Linked DNA regions of Homo sapiens: regions 1, 2, 3 and 5 are each linked to region 4. Evidence: fine-mapped expression QTL. A gene starts in region 4. Each other region holds a variant in brackets. All regions are shown on one strand. Distances are between the middles of the regions.

Region 1 (5,102 bases), 63 kb before region 4:
ATGGCATTCGGGATTGTGTCTTTCAAGATAATGGCCCAGATTCATAACCAGGATATATAAATAAGCTCAAAATGCCACAGTAAGAAAACAAAGACCCAAGTTAAAAATGGATAAAAAGACTTGACCAAACACTTCATCAAAGAGAACCTACAGACATCACATAAGCATATGAAGAGATGTTTGATATTATTAGCCTTTAGGGAAGTGGAAATTAAAACCATGATGAAATGCTGCTACATACCCTAAGTACATTAAAAATACTGACAAAACCATGTGCTAGTGAGGATTGGAAGCAACTGGAACTCTTACATATTGCTGGTGAAAATGCACATGGTACACCACTCTGGAAAACAGCTTTGTAGTTTCTCATAAAGTTAAGCATTCACTTATCATGTGAACCAGCATTCTCATTTTTAGGTAGCTATCCTTGAGAAATGAAAACGTATGTCCACACAAAAACCAGTGTGTGAATGTTTATAGCAGTTCTACTCACAATCACCAAAAACTGTAAATAATCCAAATGTCTTTCTGTTGGTAAATGGATAAATGGTAGCACATCTTTACCATGGAATGCTACTCTGCAATAAAAGAGTGAACAATTGATACACTCAACACCTGGGGTGAATCTCGAAGGTATTATACTGGGTGAACAGAGCCAGTTTTAAAGGGGTACATTTATAAGACATTCTTAAAAAAGACAAAACTAGAGTGATGGAGAGCAGAACAGTGATCGCCAAGGGCTAGGGGTTGGGGAGAGCACAGCTGCCAAGGATTAGCACAAGGGAGATTTTTGGGGTGACAGAACCTGTTCTGTATCCCAATTGTGGTGGTAGTTACACAAATCTAGACATTAAAATTCATAGACCTGTACACACAAAAAAGTCAACGTTACTATATGTTAGTTTAGTAAACAACATTTTTTAAGTCCTGAAGTAATACTACAGTGATGGTGGTCAGCCATCACTACCAGTACCTCTGAATTGAGGACAGATGACTACATGGTACAAGCAAGAGGTTAGATGATTCTTTAAAAACATCTGGAACTTACATTTATCCATCCATCAAGGCATCCACCCAACCAGCCAGTCATTATGGGTTGTTCTAACCAGCACACAACCAATTCTTGTGGAGAAGGCAATATGATGGAGGAGGAAGGTATAAGGAAAGACAAAATACATGAAAAAAGTTAAGTGTGATGAGCATCAACAAAGAAATACATTGTTGACTGGAAAACAGAAAAGTTTCTAAAGTGGTTTCCACTTAGGCAAGAATTTACCAGACTCATATCACGTTTAACAGCCTTCAGTTATTTTACTTACTGGGCTATTCCCATGCAGCTATTTGCACTCTGGCACAAAATATCTAATTTGGCATATTTGCAAAATGTATAACACTATAGCTATTTTATATATATATATATATATATATATATAGTATAAAATGCAGCAATGTTGTATCTACAACCCTGAATTTACTTTATATGAAGTACTAGAAAGTCTAATATATTCCAATGTATTGGGAAGTGAAGAATTTCAGTTTCAGGGTGTGAATGAAGTGTCCCTCTGGATGGGGATAATTAGCAAAAAAGGAAACTAGGAACCGAGAATGGAAATGGAAGGTCAGCAGAAGAAAAGGAGGAATGGAGGTTTATTACTTTTTAATTATTGCATTAAAGCCCTGGAAGACATGGAAGAACAGGAGAGAGAGGATGGCCTTCAGGCAGCGAGTGTGTGGGGCACCACCCAGAGTGTTGAACAAGATGTCAACATGGCAAAGCTGAGACCACTAACCTTGGGGACTGGAAAGGGGCCTTGAGAAATGTCTACCAGTTTCCAAATAATAGAACAAATACCCCAGGTTTGGTATCTTTTTCACAATCTAGGACTTTTTGTGGGTGATTCTGACTCCAGTGGAGGCCCAGGAGGCAGAACCCAGAAACTGT[G/A]TACAACCTAAAAAGAATTGACATTTGGTTTGAGGACCAGATGAGGCGCAGAAACAAAGTGCCTTAGCATATGTGTTGCCTGCAACAAAATAATATAAATCTGCAAACTTATTTTTAAACGTCTAAAAAAGTAAGATGAATTGATGGATGGGTAAAGGAATAGCTAATTGATGGATAGATACGTGATTAAAAAAAATACAAATTTACACCCTCAAGGAGGTGACGCGTAATTCCTCATTAAGTTTTTTGAACTGTGGGATGCACCTAGTAACTTCCTTTCAAAAAGTACACATGGAAAGGAAGGAAAAAGTGTAACTTCACAGTGGAGAACCTGACCAGCACTACCTCAGCCAGGTGATCAAGGTCAACAAGAGCGATGACATGTGGACAGTGTGTATCCTTGATATGAGATGAGAAAAGCACTTTACCTCTGCGGTCTTTCTTCTAAAAATCCACATCCACAGTGTAATTGCCAGAAAATCATCAGACAAATCCCAACTGAGGGACATTCTATGAAATACCTTGTAAGTACACCTCCAAGGTCAGGAGTTGAAGACCACCCTGGCCAACATGGTGAAATCCTGTCTCTACTAAAAATACAAAAAATTAGCCAGGCCTGGTGGCATGTGCCTGTAATCCCAGCTACTCAGGAGGCAGAGGCAGAAGAATTGCTTTAACCTGGGAGGCGGAGGTTGCAGTGAGCTGAGATCGCACCACTTAAAGTATGGATTTTAGTTAATAACACACCAATATTAGTTAATTAGTTATTACAAATGTATCATACTAATATAAGATTTTAATAATAAGGGAAACAGGCTAGGAAGTATATGGGAACTCTGTACTTTTGTAATTTTCCTTTTTGTAGTTAAAAGGTTTATTTAAATAAACAAGCTTAGTAAAACATTAATGGTTGAACCAAGGTTGTGTGTATATTGGTGTTAATCGTAAGATTCTTTCAACTTCATTGTAAGTTTGAAATGATTCATAACTTTATTTATTAGCTAGCATTTATTTGTAAGTTGAAACTTCAGGGTAGGAAGATCCTGAAATGCTTCAAGCACCTACAAGCAAACAAAGGTTTGCAAATTAAAATTAACGGTAGAGCACTAACAAAGATGTGCAAATTGCCTCTGAGGTTGTTTTTACTCGGTATGCTTTGTTCACTGCTTTATATTAATCGAAGTAAAACAATTTGTAGGGATATTAATAACTTTACCATCAACTCGGGTTCCTCTAACCCTAATATTCCCTTGAGATTTTAAGTTTCGTAATCATAATTTGTCCTAAGTGCCCACGGTGTGGGAGAAGCTGTGTATTTATGTTTCTGCAGATGATCTATCCTCCTACTTCACAGCAACAAACCTGAGGCTATCAGGCATAACTGCCCCATTTCCTGTCCTCCTACCTAGAAGCTTATTTATAACCTTCCCACCCTTGCCCCCTTCCTTCGAGACTCAGAGAGCAGTTCAGGGTTGGCCACTTATTGTGTCACTTGTTCCTCCCCTTCCTAATTCTTTCAAGGCATTCACTTTTTTTTTAATCAATTATTTTATTTCTTCCTCAAATTGTTAAACTTTACACACCAACTCTTCATCACAGCCCCCAAAGCCTGTGAATCTCATCTTTAAACAGTGAATCATGTCCTCCCAAAGCAAAACAAATCAACCACCCTAACACCTTCTCTCTGCCTCTGTTCTCCTCTGCCTCTTGCCTCCTGTCTTTTCCCAAAGCCAAGGTTCTGCAGAAGACCATCTACACCTGTCGTCTGCATGGGACTTTCATTCCTCAGTACCCAACTCTCCACCGAGAGCCCTCTGACAAGGTCACTGAGATGTCCCCAAAACCCATGCCAGCAGCCTCTTGTGGTCACCTTCTTGCTAGACTTTTAGCAGCAGGTGACACCCATGACTGAGTGTCTGCTTGGTATTCTCCCCTCCCCTGGCTTCCAGGACCCCTTTGGCTAGTCCTCGTCAGCCTCCTTTGCTGGTTCCTCTTCCTCTGCTCACCCTGATAAATATCAGAGCTCTGTCCTTGGTCTTCCTCATATCAAGCCCTAATACACTCTTGCTACACAATCCAACTCCCCCCAAGGCCACCCTCAACTCCAGTGACTCTCAGATATACACTGCCCCACAGAATACCAAAAGCCAACACGCAACTTGTTTTCAACACTCACTATGTGCTAGGCACTGTTCTAAGCATTTGACCTATGTTGTCTCATCTAATCTTTACAACCCTATCAGGGTGTACTATCATTAACATCCCATTTTACTGAGCACAGAGCTCAAACAACTTGCCCATGTCCACACAGCATGAAGCCAGGATTCAAGCCCTGTCCCACACTGTGCTCCTTGCAGAACATCTCCACCTCAAGGTTTTTCATCCACCTCTAACCTACCATGCCCCAAATGGAATTCACAATCCAAATGGAATCCTTTCCCCCAAACTGTTCTCCTTGTATTTCCAGGGGAAGATCCAGGCTTGGTGGAGCCTGAGGATTCTATAATTGGCCAGGAAGGGGCTCTTTAGGAAAAAATAAATAAAAAGAAAACAATGAATACAAGAGTAGGTTTAGGACCTTGATAGTGGATGTGAAAGGGAGGGATTCTCGCACATAACCTTCATTAGCTTCATGGTGAACCCCACCCCATACATTTTGTATTCCAGTGGCTAGCATCTAGTCATTCCAGCAGGGGCATGGAAAATTCTTCTCTTTATATTCCCTCCCTCTTCCCTTCTTCATCCATATGGAACCATGGATAGCACTCTAGTTCTACCTTCCTCAAGTCTCTAGAATCCCTCTTTACCTTTTCACGTACACTATCCTGATTAGCTCAGGTCCTCAACATCCCACACTCGGACCATAGCCATAGTCCACTCTGTCTATTCCTGCCACTTCCTGGACTTTCCCCAACACAGTTCCTGTGCTTAGCAGGGTGACCATCAGAAACATGCATCTCATCAACCCTTCTGTGATGGTCCATTTTCCTCTGACTAGCATCTACATTCCTTAGCCCAGCAGTACCCAGCACAGGTCAATCTTGCCAGCTTTACTTTTCCCTGTGCTCTCCTTTTGTTCCTTTCTTCAACAAATAATTATTGAGGACCTATTCTTGAGTACTATTATGAAGTGCCAATAGTAGGGTAATTGAATGCTAAA
Region 2 (5,102 bases), 29 kb before region 4:
CATGGTTGAGAGCCCCTCCGGGCTGGGACTCCCTCTCACTCATTACTTGTTTTCTCAGCACCAGGCACAGATTCTAAGAGCAACATCTCATGATCACTTTATGAAAGCCTATGGCCTTGTCAGTTACTGCATGACTTTATTTATTTATTTATTTTGAGGCAGGGTCTCATTCTGTTCCCCAGGCTGAGTGCAGTGATGCAATCACGGCTCACTGCAGCCTCGACTTTCTGGGCTCAAGCAATCCTCCCACCTCAGCCTCCTAAATAGCTGAGACCACACATGTGCACCACCACAACCAGCTAATTTTGACTGTTTATAGAGACAGGGTCTCACTATGTTGCCCAGGTTGATGTCAAACTCCTGGCTCAAGAGACCCTCCTGCCTTGGGCTCCCAAAGTGCTGGGATTACAGGCATGAGCCACCACGTCCAGCCACTGGATGACTTTAGACCACTGCTTCCCCTCTGCTCAACTTGTTTTCTTAAGGGCCTACCCAGAGCCATCTCCCTCACCTGATTCCTTATTAGGAGTTAAAAGCCTGACTCCCAGAGCCAGGTCCTCGCCTGCTGTTTAACCTAGGAGAAGCCCAGCTCCTGGCTCGGATGCTTGGTGAAATCAGGGGTCTGGGGAACCTGCGTCTTCCTCTTTCTGCACAGTCAGCTCCCCTCCACCCGCCTCACAGACTTCCTGGGGGCCGCTGGCAGGAACCAGAAGTTGTGCAGGCTCCATTCTGGCTGGGGAGGTTTAAACTCATCTCCTTCTGCACTGGGAACAAATGTTACCCCAGGCACAGATGACAGAGCCAAAGTGAGCAGAAGGGAGGAATCCAATCCAGGAGAGCTTCTAGTGTCCTCCAGGCCACCCATGAGGCTGCGGGGGTGGGGAAAAGGGGTGTGGGAAGATGAGATCTATCTCAAGGACAAGGCCCTGGAGCCGTAACTCTCCCCTCCCGCCCAGGCCCAGGCTGTTCCTCTTTTTTCGAGGCAAAACCTCAGCTGCCCCATCAGTGACACACTGTTCCTCTTGCCTCCTCCCACTGCTGTTCAAGATCCTCAAGAGACTGACCTTGGACCCGGGCATGGACTCTGCCTTCAAGCAGGCCAGGCTGGAGTACCAACTCTGCCTCTTACCAGCTGTGTGAAGTTGTGTCATTTGAACACCACCCCAAGCCAAGGCTCCCCACTTTTAATTGGAGATAATAATAATATCAATGGCACAAGGCTGTTTTTTAATGTAATGATGATATGAGTAAGAGATATCAGCTCACAGGCAAATCCCAACTCTGCTCTTGCAGGGCACCCGCCCCCGCTTACATTTTGTGCCCTAGGCACCTTCCTTGCCTCTTTCTAGTCTTGATCCTGGAGGTAGGGATTGCAATCACCATTTCAGCAGGTAAGGAAACTGGGGTTTAGCTAAGTGTCGTGGCTCCCCTGGTGAGTGGCAGAGCTGGGATTAGAACCCAGGTCTTGCTGCAGCCAAGACAAGGTACATTCCTCTGCACTCCTAGGGCTGGAGAAGTCACGCCTGCCTGCACTACTCCCCACCTTGCCACCAGCAGAGAGTCCCCCAGCGTCCCACTAATTCTGTTGGTGGGTTTTTCCCTGCTGGGTCTGATCAGAGCAGCCACCTGTCATGCAAAGGGTTGTGACAAATTCCATAAAGTGTCATCACCTGGGTTATGGGGAAAGGGAACACTCCAGAGGCCAAGATCAGCAGGACAGCCATACCCATGCTCTCTCAGTATCCCTATCACCTCTCAGGCAGGTGTGCAGGCCCAAAGCACCTGCCAGACACTGAGTAGGCTCTGTCCCATGAGGGCCACTCCCCCATGGCTCTCCCTTCTTACAGGCCAAGTGTGAGAAGTGTTCTTGGGTGTGGGAAAATACACACAAAGTTTTGGACACTAGGCAGGCTGGAATTGAGGTGTTGCAGCTGTTTACTGGAATTGTCTGGGAAAGCAGAAGCCTTCACACTGGGGACTTTGAGACCTGTGAGATATCATCATCCCTCTACCAAGAGGAGAATGCCACCTGTCCCATGAAAAGCTAAGCTTCAATGCTGCCCCTTGCTGGGGAAAGAGAGTCCCCACCATCCGAGTCCTGGCTCGCTCACTGTCCTGGCAGTGAGGGGCTGAGCAAGCACTCTGGTCATGTTACAACAGCCCCACTCACTCTCTGCAACCCTGGAACCTCTGAGTGCCAGTGCTTTGTCACAGGAAGAAAGTTTGATTATCCAGGGCTTCTGGGTCCCTGCCTACCTCTCCAGCCCCAAGCTAGAGCCTGCCAGGAGGGGCATGTGTTCACCTTGGCCCTCCTGATGTCCAGTAGCCTTCATCCCAGCCTACTGGCCTCACCACCCTTGCCCCTCTGCAGCAGGCCCAGCATTCCCTGACCCATTTGGGTTGTTCAGGTGCTCAGCTCACTAGGGTCTCCATAGTCCCACAGTAGAAGGCAGAGAAGAAGGAGGGATCACCTGCCCCTCTGGAGCCTCCGGGTCTTTCTCCTAGATAACCCTGTTACCATGCAGGAGTAATTTGTTCAGGGCCATTTATCCTGGCACTGCTGCACAGACATCCTATTAACTTCAGGACCACAGGGGAGCGGCTAGTTTGCTCCAAATTAAAAGTAGCTGGAAACGGGGCCCTCTGGCAGGCAGGAGAGTTCAGGCTGCCACACCACAGCCCTGGGAGAAGTGGATCTAGTCAGGTCTTCATCAGCCTTCTAAGTCCAGGGCCTCCTTTGCCATGCCACAGGGACCCTCATCTTCCCCAGTCTTCTTAGGGTTACAGAATCTCCCCTGGGCCATCTCTCTCAGCAGACC[C/T]AGGTCCCAAATCCCTGAAAGCCTTTGCTTCCCAAGGGTGGAAGTGGCGATGTGAAGTCACTGTGGAAGGAAGCAGGATGCAGGGCGGGAAAACTCTGGACCCAGAGGGACCTGGGCTCCAACCCTGCCATGCACCAACAGGACAGCCTTGGGCAAGCCATTCCCCATCTTGAGTCTGTGTCCTTCCGTAAATGGGCCAGTAATTTCCATCTCATGTGGCTACTGGAGATGGAATGAGATGGGACATGTGACAGGCACAGGACCTGGCTCATACAAGCTGCTCAGTAAAAGTCAAGTTCCCCACCCTTCTTTTCTATGATACGACCTTGGATTTGTAGCCAAGAGAAACAAGGCTGAGCCTCTGTGGGTCAAGTCCTCTTCCCAGCTCCTATCCAGATGTGCTGCTATTTCAAAATTATCCCCCCTGCCCCCAGTCACTCTTGATGACAAGTTCTATAATTAAAAATGTGCCAACAATGGAAATGATCCTTTTTATTTAGTTGTTCATGGGAGAATTGGTCATCCATTCTCATGAGAATGGGAGCCCTGTGAAAGCGTTCACCACGTTCACCACGTGGGAATCACCTAGAGTGAGTGCCTCAAGCACCTGCAGCCGAGGAAGGAAGGTTGAATAAATAACGACTAAATGCTTTCCCTGCCGAGCAACATCAGGCCATGTGGCTGGAGTTCCCTTTTTGAGGTCTGGTCTTAGTCAGGCTTGCTCTGGAGCCTACCACTCCCTATCTCCCTTGTCTGAATTCCTGTGCTGGAGTTTGACAGCAGTGACCAGCCAGAACGACCTGGATGAGACAAGGGTCAGTGCAAACAAGACCAAAGGCCTGTTCCTGCCCCCATTCCGCTCTCATGCTCTGCTGGGGGACTGCCCCTGGGTGCAGGCCCACACTGCCTATGCATCACAGCTGGCCAGGTGCTCAGGTGAGGCGGCGGTTCTTCCCCGTTGTCCACCTGCACCCCACCCAGAAGTGCAGGAGGAGGGACCCCACTGAAAGGCAGGCAGCAGGGGAGAGGAGCTTTGGGGGAGAGGATGTGGAAATGAGGAAATTGCATAGGCCTCCCGGGCCAGCTGGAGGAAAGAAAGGCCAGGACTCCTGAAAAAGACTCATGGGAAGTCATTTACTATCACCACTGACCACGCTCTCTGTCACAGGTCTTCAGTCTAGGGGCAGAAGAAAGCCTTCCTTCTCTGTTAGGATGAGGGGAGGAGGACCATGAACACAAAGCTAACCTTGGTCCCCTCTGGCTGAAGCCACTGAGATTCCATTTTGTGTTCTTAGAAGAACACCCGCTTTGGAGCCAGACCTGGGTTTGAGTCCAAATCCTCACAACTGCTTGCTGTCTTAGGCCATCAGGCTGCTTATCAACCTGATGGCCTAAGCTACCATACAAAGACACGGTGGCTTATCAACAACAGAAATGTATTTCTCACAGTTCTGGAAGCTGGAAGTCTGAGATCAGGATGCTAGCACTGTGGACTTCTCGTGGGGACTCTTCCTGGCTTACAGACAGCATCTCCTGCTGTATTCTGACGTGGAGGAAAGAGAGTAAGCTAGCTCTCTGGCCTCTTCTTATAGACACACCCCATTCAAGAGGCTCCGCCTTCATGACCTCATCACCTCCCAAAGGCCCCACCTTCAAATACCATCACCTCAGGAGTGGGATTTCAACATGTGAATTTGGGGGACGGGAGGCACAAATATTCAGCCCATTGCACTAAGTAAATGGCTTTTTTTTCTGGGCTTCAGTCTCTTCATCTCTAAAATGAAGGAGCTGCTGATTTCAAAGGCCTCTTTCAGCTTTGGAATTTAAAGATTAAACAAAATTGCAGCACTGCTGGTGGCACCTGCCATGTGCCCAGCATTGCCTGAGCACTCCATGCCCAATATTTTATTTAGTGCACATGAGAAACCTAGGAGGTGGAGTGCTCTAATTAACCCCACTTACAGATATAAAGAGCGAGCTTCAGACGGGGGACCGGCCTGCTTGGAGTCACACAGCCAGCATGAAGCATAGCCACAACTGGAAGCCTAGGCGGTCTGGCCCCAAGCCCTGGGTTTTACTTCCCTCCCCAGCCCATCCCCAGTACACTCTTTCCATTTCTGAAAATCAGATCCAGGGTAAGAAGCAACGAAGACAAAACAGATTCCTTCCCAGTTTGGCCAAGAGGCAACACACACTCTTGTTTTCGAAATCAAGACTTCAGGACCTCCATTCTGACTGAGGAAGTGCAATTGAGGAGAATGCCCTCTGAGACTCAAGCTCCCC
Region 3 (5,102 bases), 93 kb before region 4:
CCCTTGCCTGCCCCAGAAACTTAGCACTTTGCGGTACTTGTGGCTAGCCAGGCTCCCCACTGCCCTCCCTTGGCTAACAGAGGGCCCAGTCCCCACCTCAGCCTCGCTTTCACTACCCCCTTGGGACTGCCTGAAATGGAGAAATTGCCTTGCTCTAAGGCTTCGGGGCCAACCCTTACAGAAAGACTGCCTTCAAGGCATGCAGAGCTCTGCCCTATGCTCCTCAGGAAGGAGAGCTAAAAGAAGAAAAGAAATACCATCCATTGTCTCGATGCCCAGAGACGACCTCGGTGTTTCTTTCCATGCTTTCTTCCTAGCATGTTTCTAAACATAATTGAGGTTATGATTTATATTCAATCTCATTATTCTGACTTTTTTCTCTTAAATTACCTAAAGGGATAATATAAACACTGCCTAGTGTTATGCAAACTCAATTTAAAATAATTTTAATGACCACAACATTATTTAATCATGCCCTTATTGCTGAACATTTAGATTATTTACCAAGCTGCTGTTTCAATAATGATAATAAAAACGGCGAACAATTATCGAAAGCTTTCTGTGTGGCAGGCAGTGTACCAAGTAGTTAAACTAGTCTTCAATCATTTAACCCTCACATTTTGCAGATGGGGAATGAGAGGCACAGACAGCAAGTAACTTGCATGAGGTTCCATGGGTTTTAGGTGACAAGTTTCAGAACAGGCTTTAATGTCTCTTTCAGAAATATTCCCCTTTTAATTACAGCATAACTTATATACAGTAAGTAAAATGAGCAAATGAAAATGCAGCTTCATTTGTTTGCAGTACCTCATCCCAATCAAAATAGAGACAATCATGGATACTATTTTGCGAACTTTTTTCTCCCTCTTTGAGATAAATTGTTTAAGTCAGAACCTCAGAACCGAGTTATATAGGATCCATAGGAACGAGCATTTTTAAGATCTTGGTTATTTTCCTAGACCAATCAGCAATCATATGAGGTGCTAGTTTCAACTTGTCCTCAACAGCATAAATGTTCACATTTGAAGTATCTCTCAACTTGCTGCTTTGGGGTGGAGCATTTGAGGTTAAATGTTTCTCCTTGAGGATCCTAGGTTCTTCTCACAAGGGTGGGCCTCATGGTTTGTGGCAGCCTTCTTTTGGAGCACATTTTAAGCCATATTTTTATCTTATAGCTAGCAAATCCAAAGAATAAATACAATTGTTATGAAATCTTAGCTTGGAAGGGTGGGATGATTATCACACTCAGAAAGCTGACTTAGAAGTTGATATTGAAAGCACATCCCATCTATGGAGCCCTGGTATCCCCTTTATCTACAGGCAGTGGGGGGTAAGTGGTTCTTGGAAGAGTCAACTGCCTTTAATTCATCATTCTCACTGTTATCATTATGAGATAAACCAGATGATTTTGAAGAGTGCTAACTTTGTGTCTAGATCAGCAGAGAGTCCTGCAGACTGGGACCCAGGCATTTGATTCTGCTCCAGCAAGATCTAGGCTTGTGGACCTCAAATCTGTATTTTTAAGGAGCACCCTAGACGATTCCTATGGCATCCAGCATTGGTAGGCACTGGTCCAGAAAAGTTACCTGGATTTGTAGTAAGGAAGACTGAGGCCTCTAGAGGGAAAGAGGCTGGTCTAAGGTCACACAGTGAGCTGGGATACCAGCTGGGACCCCACCTGGGATTAGGACACACAGCTCTGAGCCAGTGCCTCTCCACTGCACGACCCAAGGATGTTCTCCTGCAAGTCAAAAGGAATTGGAGAGATTGAACAAATATGTAACATGGTCTCTGTCCTCAGGAGCTTATATTCCAGACACAGGACGAGGTACCCATGTCAGAGACAAGAAGACGCAAAGTCCCACCAGTCTGCATGGGTGTCCCCAGCTAGGAGCCAGTTAATAGAGAAGGTAAAAGGGCAGAAGGAACACGCATTAGGATCCATTTGTCTGCTGAGTGCCTTGCACACATCATTTGCTTTAATCCTCACAACCAACCCATTGGGTTAGTTACTGTTCATATCTCTATTTCACTGATGAGGAAGTTGAGGCACAGAGAGGCAAAGCAACTACAGGAAAGTCGCCAAGCTAGCAGGTGGCAGAGCCAGGGTAAAGTGTGTCCGACCTCAGAGCTGAGTCGAGAGCTGTCTCCAAGGGAGGCCTGACCCCACTACTTGGGTAGAGTTTGCATCTGCAGATCAATTCTTTACATGTCATGTTTGACAGCTAAGATCCATTCCCAAATGACTCTGCGGTCCATTCGTTTGGTAGTTTCTTTCAGGGGGCTGAGGTACTCAGAATCTGAAGGGTTTCTATCCAAGTCTGTGGAGGGACTAGAACTTCCAGGATCACAGATTTGCCTCAGTCTCCTAGTTTCTTCCCTCAGTCCATTTATGGCAGAAGAAGGAACCTGCCTGGGTGCTGTAGATTTGTCCTGGGGTCTGAGATCTCCAGGAAGAAAACTCTCCCTTCCCCCAGCTCAGGCAGTGAGGTCTTCCTGTACCATCCCTGACCCGTGGTCCATCTCCCTGTACTGATGGGAGTTTTAGGGATCAATTCTCTGTTGCTCAATTGGATTGTATAATTCTCCTGGTCACACCTGAATGTTAGGCCTATCTGTGCCTCTCAGCCCGTCCCAAGTCTTTCTCTTCATAATTCTCAATTCCTTTCTTTTTCCCTTATCAAGGTAACATGCCACTTTATTCCCTCTTGGCAAATTTTACCTTGTTGCCCTATCTTATTTGGTCTATATTTGAGCAAGATATTTAGAAACATCCTTCAAAAAACCAGTTG[C/T]GCAACAATATTTGCTGAAATCTAAGTTTATTATGACCTTGCAGAAGGAAAATAACAGAAATGAAAGCACAAAATATGGCAAAAAACAGGATCTGTGAACTGTACCCCTACCATACCACACCTAGTTCAACATGTTCTCATTTTCTTCTTCAGGTTGGGGGAGAACAGCTGTGACTATAAATGCCTCGGAAATGCATAGACCCCAGGTTTGGCTATACGTCCTAGGGAACCTCGTCTACCCTCTTGAATCTCAATTTCCCCAGGAAAAACACGAAGCTGAATTAGATGACTTCTACCATCTTAGCTTTACAATCTCATCTTTATGACAGTCTGGAATATCAACAGAATCCGATGCCAGCCTGCAGGGATGAGGGTGTTAGAAGCTTAACCGTCTCGCACAAGTCATCTTACCACATGGTCAGGGTAGAGGGACTATAACTAAGTCATGTGGCTTGAGATCTGCCCAAGCAGATGCGTTGTCCCCTTCTGCCAATGACCAAGCACAGGGATCCTTCAACCTTTCCTCTAAGTCCAGAAGATAAGACAGCAACGCTCTGGTCCCAGCACCGCCACAAGCCTCTTTTCCTCTAGGGGCCTCAGTTTTCATAGCTATAAATTGGGGCTCACATCAGTTTTCTGTCCTGCTTCACAAGACTCTCATAAGGCTCCAAGGAGACTGCCCCAGGCGGGAGCTTGAGGACCCCCCTTAGGGTCGTGAGCAGTGAAAGCCCAAATGCTGTGTCTGGCACTGCTCATCATAGTCCTCTATCCAGCCCTCCCACCCTGCCTATTCTTTCTCCTGCCTCCAGGACACCACGTCTCCCCTTTCTAGTAAGTAGCGTTGATCTCATTAGCAGTTACAACAGTTCTCTGCATCTCAGAGCATGGACTTTAAAACCAGATAGGTGTGGCTTGAGTCTTGCCTCTATCACATGTAGTCCCTAGGGCTTCGGACCATTTCACTTCCCTGAGCTGATTTTGCAGCTGAGTCAAGGGGATAACAATGCTGACCTCACAACATAGTAGGGAGCGCTAAATGGGACAGTGCCTGTGAGACACCGAATTCAAACCCTAGCACATAATAGGCACATACTCATTTGAGGGCTTCTGCTCCCATCCTTCTCTCCGGAACTCATGGTCAGGAAAACTCAGCGGTCTATATGGCGCTCACTCAACCAGTAAAGTTGCCATAGGGTTCCATTGCTATCTTATACACCTCCCACATTCTGCCCCAATTCCATCGTCAAGCCTCAGCTCAGCCCACCAAGGGCACTAGCATCATGACCATTCACACAAGAGCAAGGCTTACCTTCTTGAAATAGTCAGCAAGGCTGTCGGGGTCCCAGCCCAGGACCTCTGAGCGAAAGGGCACATTCCTCAGTGCCATGGCTGCTCTCCCGGGAAGAAGCTCACAAGCTGAGCATGGGCGCTTCACCCATGGGCAGAGAAGCTCAAATCCAGAGCTCGGAGGCGTTCTTGGCTCTTCCAACTCCCAGCTACCCTGTGGAACACCCCTGTTGGAGCCGATGTCTTTTCTGGCGTAGCCAGATCCCAGAAAGCAACGGCTTCCTCTGCGAACAAATATGGTCTCTTCTCAGAAAACGACTCAGCTAGTTTCCTTTACCACTTCCTCTGCTGGGCTCTAAATAAGTAAACAAGGAAGCCCAGCTCTGGAGGCTTGAGATGCAGAGAGAGCCACAGGGTTGGTAATTCCCCACTGGCTCCAGTCACCCCAACCCAGTAGGAGAGGCAATGAAGGGGTCTTAAACTCCAATGTGAGTCTGAGTAATTTTCCTTTAAACTCTGGGCACCCATATGTCTACACTGCATTCTTGCTCAGCTGGGGCTTTGCAGACCAAAATCTATCCTGACGGTTGACCTGAAATACAGACAATTTCCCACATCAGTGAACTGCTGGAGCATGTTTTTTTAATGCTTTCCAACCACTTTCCCCTCCCACCATCAAAGACTGGGATTCTTTCAGCTGCCTCTTTACAGTTGTCATGAGAGGGTCCTCAAGGAGTGAGTGAGTCAGGCACCCAGGGCTGAACAAGGTGCTACACTGTGCAGACAGGGCTCAGTTTCTGATATGACTATTTCTGTGCTATGCAACCTTAGGCAAGGAGTTAAAAGCTGGGAATCTCAGTTTCCAAATCTGTATAATAGGAAAACAGTGATTCTTCATATGCACATAAAACTTAGATGCATTCAACTAGACAAACCTAAAAAGAAAAATTAAAAAGAAAAAAAACTTAACAATTGCTATTGGTAGTGTCATATATTCCATTCACTATTGTTTCCACAATATAT
Region 4 (5,102 bases):
CTACTTCAAGCAAAGAAAGAAGAAAGAAGGCATCATGGTGGCCTCAGCGACTGCTTTCTTATTTCAGGGCTTGAAGCCACCTGGGACAAAGCAGAATGGGCACATTCTGCTGGTGGTTGCTTTCCTTCTCTCCTCTTTCTTTAGGCAGCAACTCCTTGTTTTTCCCCTGGACATTGACTCCACCCCAATGCAAGCAAAGATTCCACCCTCCCCTGCTAGGCTCCTGATCGCTCCCCCAGGAGTGTGAGTCTTGACAAAGACTTCAAGAAACAGCCCCTCAATCTATGCCGCCTGGAGCCACAGAGATGCCCAGCCATGGTCCCCGCGTGATTTCCCATGGTTCCGCAAGCTGTCCTAGAGCCTCTGGTAAATTTATTTGCTGTTGTTTTTATTTGTTTAAAGTAACCAGAGTCCATTTCTACCAAAAATACCAGGAAGCTATCAATGTAATCCTCCATTTTAGGGGAAATTTTAGGGGAATTTAGGGGAAATTTTAGCCAGATATCAGGGGGACTTTATTCTCCTTGCCAGGTCCCTAAAGTAATAAACATATTATGGTTTTTGTTTGTTTAATTAGCCAGTGTCCGGGTGACAGGCCTTAGTCCAAAGAGATTTTCTGCAAAGTGCTCTATTTTCTGCTCAGGCGTCTCTTAACTACTAGACTGTTTCAAATATTCAGAGATTCTTGACTCCCTCCCCTTAGCCAGGCTGCCCTCATACCCGGGCATCTCCGCTAAAGGGAAGAGACCAGGGTCAGGCACCACGGATACCCATCACACCTTCCCAGTGAGCTGGTCCACCTCCCCTATCGATCGGCAGAGGTGACATCCAATGACAACTTTTTCTCCTTTATTTGGCACCAGGAGGTGAGTTTCTCCTGCATTCTAATGGAGACATTATAAAAGCACAAGCAAGCAGAAATTGCCCCCGACAAAGAGAGATGTTTTATTCAACTCTTTTTATTCAATCCTTTTCCTCCTGTTCTGTGATCTTGTGGGAATGGGAGAGCCCATGCCTTTTTCTACCTGGCGTCAGTTGAACAAGACTCTCCATGTATTCACAGGTAAAGCAACAGAATCACCTGGAGGTAAGCTAAAAGCCCCAACAGCCTGCTTCCCCAGGACCTGCAAGGGTCACTGGCACTTGGCCCCACCCCAGATACTGTGAGACATAAATCATTTGAAGCCAATGGGAAATCCCATCTTGGAAGCCTAGGGCTGAGTGCCCACAACAAAGCCATTTCTCTCCTGGGGGAACTGGATCGCACCTGTGGGGGCTTCCTGTGGCTCCTTCCTGGCTAATCAGCCCCCCCCAGCGCCCAGGGCCATGGCCTCCTCTGCTATTTGGCTTCTAGTGCCCTCTCAGGCCCCTGGGCACTCCTGAGGCTGGTGAAGGCAGGAACCTGGTTTTACCAGTTTTAGGAGCTCAGAAGGAAAGGAAAGGAGAGGCTTCCCTGTCACAGAGAAGTCTGGAAACTTGGCTTATTCAGGTCTGACCCGTCTCTAATGGTCTGATGAGATTGTTGCCTGCACTGAGTGAGTTTATAGAGTCATGATAAATCCTCCTAAGACCATGCGTGGGGTTCAGTGTAGATATGACTTCAGCAAGAAGTTAGTATTCAGCATCCAAAGGGAGAACCTTTGGCGGGAGGAAGGATGGGAACTGTCAATATCCCCCAAGGGACAGAAAGAAAAGGAAGAAGTGGGTTTCAGCTATCATAGGAGGGATTTCAGTTAGACTGTAAGAAGAACTTCCCAGTTTTGAGCATTTCTAAATATCTCTGAAGTTCCAGGATATATCTTCCCATTTAGAAAGGTCACTTGAGATCTGGGATAGATTCAGAGAAGATGGAGAAGGACAAAGGAAGGCAGGACTTTGGAGTGTCCTGGGTGACCTGATAGCTGGGTCGACATCCTTTTCCTTAGAAGGACAAGGAATAGAGTACATTGTTGAACAGTTTGGTGGGGTGTGGACAGGGCGATTCTGAGGTCCTCAGACATGGAATCAAATCCTGGCTCTGCCACTTACACTTAGCAACCACATGACTGTGAAACGAGAACCATGGTACCTGCCTCAGAGAGTTCAGCTAAAGATCAAATGCCATATTGAGTATCAGACATGTATCATAGCACCTAGCCCCAAATCAGCCCCCAGTAAATATTAGCTATTACTACTAACGAAGGAAACCCTGAAAGTTTGGAGCAGAAGTCTGGACCCCTCTTGATGAATCTATTTTTGTCCCACCTCTCTACCGGTGACAAGTGCCAGCATTGGTGTTAATCTCCAGGCTGCAGCCTTCTGGCCACTCTGAGAACTGGGACCTAGAGGGCCAGGGCGCTTACTACCAGAGTAACCTGGCCACTGTGCCACCCTCCCCACTGGCCACCAGACCACGGGCCCTCCATCCAGAAGGACAGCCCCGAGAGGAAGGGAGTCCTCCTGCCTGCCTCCCTCCCTGCCCCGTGGCAGGCTGCTTTCCCCTGTCTCCCTCCAGCCCGGTCTTCAGAGAAATCACTTCCCAAGTGCTTTCAGGCCCGGTACTCACAGTCTTCCCGGCGTCCTGTGGGTCTTGAGCAGCAGACAGTTTCTTTCTGCCTGGACCCCCGCCCCCACCCCAAAAGAGGCCACAGAGCTTCAGCAGGAAGTTTGGCCTCCCCGCCCGTCTCCAGGGAAGCAGCTTTTGGTCCCCATCTGGGGCAAGCCTCCATGCCCAAACATGGTCAAGTCTGAGCACACAGCCTGGAGACACAGACTCGGAGAGCAGGTACCCAGCCCTGAGGAAGGCAGCTGTTACCCAAGCCCTGCACCTCCATCTTCCCAGAGTCTCGTGGGAAACAGATTTCAAACAACAACAGACAGCAAGACTGAGAAACTACGAAAGATCAGCCTGGTATATTTGGAAATATTTCTTCTTCTCTCTGTCTCTGTGGGCTGGCAAAGATGCCAGAAATAGGAAATGATTCTCCTTTTGTTGGCATGAGGAAGGGTGGAGTTGGGCTGGAGGGGTTGGGCTTGTCACTAGTCCCTGGCATATCCACGCTGGAGCAGCTACAGCTCCCTGCCTTTGGCACTTACGTGCTGTGTGACCCTGAGCAAGTTATGGCACCTCTCTGGGCCTCAGTTTCCTTTTTTGTTTTTGGTTTTACTCCCAAACTTATCGTTAAATGACCTCAGTTTTCTCACTTGTGTTACTGGCATTTTTAAAACCTACTTTGCTTTAGGGTAGTGATGGGAGTTAGAGACGGTGGGGATTTATGGCAAGGGGAGAGAACTGACTTTTTAAGGACCAACTGAGCTGAAGCTGGGAGTAGTGAGAGCTCCACAACTGCTTCCAACCAGGTCCAGGGACAGTCTGCTCACCAGGGGCCCTCCCAGAGACCGCGAAAGTACAGAGATTTCTTCCTAGCAATAAGACAAGTGAATGTCAGCATTTGCAGGCAAAAAACATGCTTTTAGATCTCTGCTTCTTCATCTGTAAAGTGGAAGTAAGGATTAAAAATCAGCAACAAAGGGCAGGCACAGTGGCCCACGCCCATAATCCCAGCACTTTGGGATGCCAAGGTAGATGGATTGCTCAAGCCCAGGAGTTTGAGACCATCCTGGGCAACATGGCGAAACCCCATCTCTACTAAAAATACAAAAATTAGTCGGGCATAGTGGTGCATGCCTGTGGTCCCAGCTACTTGGGAGGCTGAGGCAGGAGAATCGCTTGAACCTGGGAGGCGGAGGTTGCAGTGAGTCAAGATTGTGCCACTGCACTCTAGCCTGAACAGAGCGAGACCCCGTCTCAAAAAAAAAAAACAAATATATATATATATATATATATTTTCAACAAAACAACAAAAACAATCCCAGATATTGGGGCTTTCCTAAGTATCAGGCGTGGTGGTAGAAGGCAGCTTATCTCCACCCTTCACTTGACCCAAGAATCAAAGAACCTGAAACTGAGACTTGGAGGCTTGAAGTCACTGGTGCAACCCTAGGGGCCAGAACTAGATTCGAAGCTGGCCCTTCCAGATGGCACAGCTTGGTCTGTCTCTGATGACCCTGGGGCTGCTCTGAGACATTAAAAATCACCTCGATCATACAGTAAGCTGCCACCTGAGGCTCTGGAGGTCACCCTGAGTTTCCCCAGCCCCCAGGGAGGTGGGTGCAGCCTGGCCTTCCCTGCTGAGCGAGCTCACCACCTTCCTCCCTCCTGCCTCCAGCAGGCGCGAAATGAAGGCAGCCACTCAGGCCTCCCTGACACACTCTCAGGCGGTGAGTGCCCTTCTCCACCCCTTTCCTAATTGAATCTTATTAACAGGAGACTACAGTGTCTGTTTAATGGGCACCATAGCACCAGAGGGTCTAAGACCAGCTTCAGACCTTGCAGGCAGATTGACAGAGGGATGTAGGATCTGGAATTCAATCTCAGAAGAGCAATTTTCCAAGGATGATCCTCTGTCCACTCAGAAGCAGGAAAAGTCCTCCTGGGGCTAATCCAGAAATGCCAGGCCCCCCTCCTGCTTCCCTGGGGGAGAGATACACAGTGCAACAGGCTGCCATTTATGAGTATAACCGAAGGGCTCCTTGCTCGTGATACTCTGAATAAGTTATTAAGGGCTACATATTATTTGGAAATCATAAACAAACTTTAGCATTCTTCCCAAGGGAAGGTGGGAACAAACAGGGAAGGGGGGCCGTGGGGTCTTCTGCTCCCCCTAAATGAGCCACAACCAAAAGGCATTGACAAGCCCTGTCCTCGAGGGTTTGTGGGTGAAAACCCAGGTCCTTTGCTGGCTGCGGGGTTGTGTGTGACAGATGGCTACAGGTGGAGGGCAAGAAAATAACAATGCTGCAACAATAAATATTGACGGTTTGCATTAGTACGGGGTGTCAGAGATCACAAAATATCTTCTCTGACTCTTCCAACAGCTTCTTAAGGTACTAGCACAATAGGCTCACAATAGACCACTGAGGTGGAGATTTTTCTACCCATTTGATAGAGGGAGTAACTGAGCCTCAGAGAGGTGAAATAAATTGCCCAAGCAAGTTACTTTGCCTCTCTAAGCTTCAGTTTGTCTGTCTCTAAAATAGAGATAATTATACCTAGCCCCTCA
Region 5 (5,102 bases), 95 kb after region 4:
GGGCCTGCATCTAACCTTATCTGAAGGGGCTTATGAATTTGGGATTTATTACCTTGACAGAAAGAAATATTGAGAATGACCCCACCCATGCTTTATAGCAATCGCTCTTTATAGTTTATTTCATAGTGACAAGAAGGAACTCATCCATGGTGGGTTTTTCCCTGAGTGGTCTGTATGGTCATATCAGAACTGAAATCATCCCTTCTTGCTTCTGAGCCCCCGTTTCCAAGTCTTGTTCTTTGTTTCTGTAGGTAGTAAAGTGAATTCTTTAAATCCCTGCCCTCCATCAGCTGCTAAAGCATTCTGCTTCCCTCTGATAAGATTAACAGAATGTTGGCTGTGGTTACGGGATGCTTTGCAGTCTATGTCTTAAACCAAGCCAGCCATGTTAGCATTTCCTCTAGTGGTGGTGTTTTAGGCCAATTGAGAATGTGGGTGATATTAATATTTTCCAACCAGCTGATAACAGGAAAGACACTTCTGCTTGGAGTCCACTTTGAGAAGAGATTTATTATTTAGGCAGCACAGGACACCTCCATTAATCTTCCCCCAGCAGTGCCCATCTACCATCAAGTTCATATACTTTCCCCAGGGTTCAAAGAAGGGTATAATTTTAGCCAGCGATTAGTCAATATTTATCAATAAGAATAATAACAGTAAAATTACAATGGCCAATGTTTGAATCCCTAATGTGTGCCAGGCACAGTACGGGGCCTTTTGCAGCTATTATATCATAAAACCCTTACAACAGCCCCATGAAATTTGCACCATGATTTGCTTCATTTTACTTTTGGGGAAACCACGGATCAAGTAACTGAAGTGATTTCTCTAGGACTCACAGATGAGCGGTGGCAGAGCCTGGAATTAGATATATCTGATGTTAGTGTTTTGAGGAATCACTCTCCCCAAAAGCCATAGCTCCCAGACATTCTTATGTAATTTGTCTTTGCTGAGGCTTGGGTATTGATGATTTAAAAGTCCCCAGAGACCAGATTTCATCTGGTATGCTGTGGGAGTCAAGTAACGTCCAAGGCCAAGCCTGTCTGAGAGAGGTTTTTATTAGCTCCAAAATTATAATAACTTCCACAGCCTTCTTCCACCAATTCTGCCTTCCACTGAAACAGCGCTGGTGATGTTTAGAGGTATGAGTTTGGGACAATTATCAGGAGAAGCATTTTGGTGCTATTGTCCCACCCCTTCTGTCCTGAGAGGTTTTATCTGGTCTTTCAGTATTTCAAATAGGTCATGACTAGATTCCATGCATCCCTAGAAAACATAGCCTAAATTTTAAATTAAAGTATGAGGTGGAAGAAACAGCCTTTCTTCCCTTTTGTTTCCAAGGACAGATGGAGTCAAAAGTGGAACTGGGGCCCGCAGAGCCGGATAGCTTGGGCAGTACGTGTGTGCACCTGCAGGCTGTGGAGACAGGTATTTCCATGGAGCTCACTCGCCCTGCCTCTCATCCAGGCCTGAAAATCATAGGTAACTATGAGGCAAGAGGAACCCAGGGTGGTGGGAACACCCTAGGGTGATCCCAGGCTGGGGACCTTTGGACTAAAAAGATGAAAGCCAACATTCCCTCCCCAGGAGGAGATGCAACTCCTGCACTCTCTAGTGACCATCACTGGGATATTGCACAGATCTGCAGTCACCTTCTAAATCCCCTTAAAGTGGACCTAGCCATCCTCTCCATTTTAAGACCACATCTCCTGTCTGCTACAGCCCCTCTCGCTTCTTTTTCTTTAAGGATATCTGGCTGGTTGTATTGGGTTAACATGCAAGAAGAGAGTACCAATCACTCCATAACTTGGGTAATGCATGTCAATGGTGATCTGTGTGGGGCCGCAAGGTTCCAGATGGTTGGGACAACTCTACAATCAGTCACATTTGGGTTGGTTAAATCCCCCACTCATCTTTACAGCTGTATCCTGCAAGTTAGTGGCTGCCTGTCTCTGAACTTCACCTTCCTTATGGTTGTCAAAAATACCTCCATGGGATAAAAACGCAGCATCTGTAGATTCCCAAATAGGTGCAAGTAGATTCCCAAATAGGTGCAAATAGGTTCATTCGTTGGTTCATTCTGCAGTCAGGGAGCTTTCAGTCTACTGGCATGCAAGACGCAATGATAATGAGAATACTTCACAATGAGTGTGACGTGATGACTGATGAATGTGACAAAGGAGAAGTAGGATGCACTTAGACAGCCTGGGGGAATTGAGTTG[T/C]GGCCAGAAGGGAGAGAGAGTGTCCATTCTCCACCTCATCACTTTGCTGCCAAGAGAAACAGGAATTTCTTAGACAAGTTCTCAGGTCCCTCGGTGAGACTGGCAGCCTAAAAAAGGCACCAGGGAGCAGGGGGCACTCACATCATGCCATCCCCCCACAGAGCATCCCGCTGGCCATCTGCATCAGCCCGACCCCCACAGGATAGAAGACTGGCACATCCAAGTTGCTCCTTCCACACCCTCTCCCCACTGAGGCCTCGTCTCCTCCGCCCTGTGGCCAATTGAAGGTGAACTCCTAACGTGCATTCTGCCTGGGATCCCAGAGGTTGTGGCAGCCAGATGAGTCACCTCACAAATACAGCACGTGTTCCTCGGGGGCGGCGGTGGGAGGAAACACGTGAAGAGCTCTCTCTGTGATAATAGACCATTTAGAGCTTCAGATGGCGAAAACAAGCTGATCAGGTGCAGGCCCTCCAGGAGGCTGGCAGGTGACTCCCAGCCAGCACGCCCTCCATCGCACGTTGGGGAAGCTGGAAAGAGCCTGGTGGCTGCCGGGCCTCCCTCTGGCATCCTCTCTCCCTCCAAGGCTGTGTGCTCCCCACCTTGTCTCTCCTTTTTTCATTCCATTGCTCTGTTCTGTTTCTGTCTACCCATTCGTCTTTTCTTCCTCTTCTCTTTCTGTTGCCATTCTCTTTCTCTTCTCCTCTCAACATGTCCTTCTCTCTACCCGTTTCCCCCTCCCCTTCTCTCTCTCCTCCCTCTTTCCCTCTCCCTCTCTTCCTTTCCCAAATCTCTCTTAGCCAGGCTCCTTTTCGCCCTTTGCCTCTCAAACCCTCCTCCACCTTTCCACCCTCTCTCTGCGTTCTGCTTCTCCCTTCTTCCTTCCGTGTCTCTGGCTCACTTATCTGCCCTCTCCACATCTTCTTCCATTTGCCACCCTCCCTCTCTGTAGCCACACCCAGTGGGCTCAGAGCTGGGTCTTTCTTTTTTTTGTTTTTTCTTTTTTCTTTTTTTTTTTTTTTGAGATGGAGTTTCACTCTTGTTGCCCAGGCTGGAGTGCAGTGGCGCAATCTCCACTCACTGCAATCTCTGCCTCCTAGTTTCAAGCAATTCTCTTGCCTCAGCCTCCTGAGTAGCTGCGATTACAGTCATGCGCCACCACGCCCGGCTAATTTTGTATTTTTAGTAGAGACGGGATTTCTCCATGTTGGTCAGGCTAGTCTCAAGCTCCCGACCTCAGGTGATCTGCCTGCCTCGGCCTCTCAAAGTGCCAGGATTATAGGTGTAAGCCACCGCACCCAGCCAGATCTAGGTCTTTCATCCCCCTACACAACCCTGGCCTGGCCTGGGCCTCTGGTCTTGGGCCTGGAAGGGAGTCCCATCCTCCCTCCCTCAGCTGGATTTCTTAAGGATAAAACCTTTGCTCCTTCCTTCACCACACCTCTCCACATCCCAAACTCAAGCCCACAGAGCCCAGCTCTGGGCCCAGGGTGTGGACGGGGAGGGTGGCTGGTGGCCCAGAGCTGAGCCCTGTGAGTCAACAGCATGCCTAGACTCACACACAGACACATGGCCCACCTTCAGGGTCATGAGGATTCATAAACCCTATTCTGCGAAGTGCCTCCAGGAATCATCAAGGGAGCTAGGGCAGCTCTGAGTCTCCACCAGGCCCACCCTCCGCCTCTCAGGGCTGAGCTTCACTTCCCTTCCCAAAGGGGCCAGGGAGAGGGGCTGCTGATGACATGATCTCAGAGGAAGGCCAAGGCCTCCAGGCTGCCTCTGGGCCTGGCACAGGAAGGAGGAGGAGAAAATAGGGAGCCCAAGGAAAGATCAACCCAGCCCAGCCCAAGGACCCCCAGCCCCAGCCCCAGCCCCAGCTGGGCTCAAACTAATTGAAAACAGACTGGAAAAGGCTGCTTTTGCCCTTCCTCTAGACTCAGCATCATCAAGACTGGAGGGACAGAGCATTTGAATCATCAGACGCTGGGCCAGACGTCACCCCACGCGTTTTCTCATTTTATCGTCCTAAGAAGCCCAGAAGGTGCGTAAAATGGCCTGTCCCAAACAGATGAGGACATTACCTTTCTCCTCTTCCTCCTCCTCCTTCTTCTTCTTCTTCTTTTTGCTTCATTTTTCTTTCATTTTTTCCCCCAGATGTTGCATTTCAGAGAGGCTGAGCGTGTTGACTAAGGTCACACAGCTACAAACATCAGGGACCTGCGAAAAAGCTCTGTTCCCTGGTGACAGGTGTTCTGTGATCCTAACACAGCCGGAGGTGGGGACAACGTCCTTGCAGTAACAAAGGCCCTGTTGCTCAACTCAGTGGACATCAGGCCCTGTTTTCATTCATTAGCAGGTCAGGGATTCCAGTGTCACCTGTGCCATGTATTCCAGCTGATCTACCTGCAAGCCTCTACTCCCCATTTTCCCAGCAGCAGCCGCAGACACCACCCAACTGGCAGAAATTTCAAACAAGGGGTTCTGCCTTGCACTCCGGTGCAAGGGTTGGGCACGTGGACTCACATGTGACCAATCACATTGTCTTTCCTGAGATCCTGCATTTTGACCAGAGGAATCAAGAACAAAAAGTGGTGGCAACTGATTTATCCTTAAGAAATCCAAGTAATGAGTTCCTGCTGCCAAGATTTCTGGGATTTCCCTGGCTCCTGCCAGTTTCTGGATTTGGTTCTTAAGCATTTTCTGGGTGTGTGAGCCCCATACCCTTCTCATAGCTTCTTCAGCCAGAGTCAGTTTCTGGTTTTTGCAATCAAAAATAACCCAACTAAGATTTGCTATCCTGCAGGCAAGAGAGGGCCACAGCTTGATAGTCAAGGTTAGCCATTGTCTGGGCCCTGCCTGCCCCAGCCAGCTTTCTTTCCT

Alleles and levels. Alleles are on the strand shown, and positions count from the first base shown. SD is a standard deviation of normalised expression in the study named. Not every link is listed here.
For the expression in spinal cord of the gene that starts at base 2,654 in region 4, C is the high allele of the variant in region 5 and T is the other (moderate effect, 0.41 SD a copy in GTEx).

Evidence for each region. PIP is the estimated chance that this variant, and not a neighbour inherited with it, causes the effect.
Region 1: its variant is fine-mapped to the expression of KCNMB1 in whole blood (INTERVAL, PIP above 0.99).
Region 2: its variant is fine-mapped to the expression of KCNMB1 in whole blood (TOPMed, PIP above 0.99).
Region 3: its variant is fine-mapped to the expression of KCNMB1 in whole blood (TOPMed, PIP above 0.99).
Region 5: its variant is fine-mapped to the expression of KCNMB1 in spinal cord (GTEx, PIP above 0.99).

Annotation. Positions count from the first base shown.
Region 1 is chr5:170,324,039-170,329,140 of GRCh38, forward strand. No RefSeq gene overlaps it. Among named protein-coding and RNA genes, the nearest start is that of LINC01366, 4.8 kb to the right of the region's middle. RefSeq lists an enhancer at 3,792-3,891. The variant G/A (reference allele first, on the strand shown) is at 1,943.
Region 2 is chr5:170,357,394-170,362,495 of GRCh38, forward strand. It overlaps a transcript of KCNIP1 not described here. Among named protein-coding and RNA genes, the nearest start is that of LINC01366, 29 kb to the left of the region's middle. RefSeq lists an enhancer at 3,710-4,210. The variant C/T (reference allele first, on the strand shown) is at 2,820.
Region 3 is chr5:170,293,433-170,298,534 of GRCh38, forward strand. It overlaps LCP2 (lymphocyte cytosolic protein 2), which reads right to left and starts at 4,345. Exons shown (of 21, transcript NM_005565.5): 1 at 4,102-4,345. The coding sequence starts at 4,179. RefSeq lists an enhancer at 3,448-3,527. The variant C/T (reference allele first, on the strand shown) is at 2,793.
Region 4 is chr5:170,386,714-170,391,815 of GRCh38, forward strand. KCNMB1 (potassium calcium-activated channel subfamily M regulatory beta subunit 1) reads right to left here and starts at 2,654. Exons shown (of 4, transcript NM_004137.4): 1 at 2,546-2,654. KCNIP1-OT1 (KCNIP1 overlapping transcript 1) reads left to right here and starts at 2,780. Exons shown (of 3, transcript NR_109899.1): 1 at 2,780-2,890. It also overlaps a transcript of KCNIP1 not described here. RefSeq lists enhancers at 769-1,269, 1,270-1,770, 3,695-4,195, 4,196-4,696, 4,949-5,102.
Region 5 is chr5:170,481,714-170,486,815 of GRCh38, forward strand. It overlaps a transcript of KCNIP1 not described here. Among named protein-coding and RNA genes, the nearest start is that of KCNIP1, 20 kb to the right of the region's middle. RefSeq lists an enhancer at 3,257-3,757 and a silencer at 4,573-4,739. The variant T/C (reference allele first, on the strand shown) is at 2,223.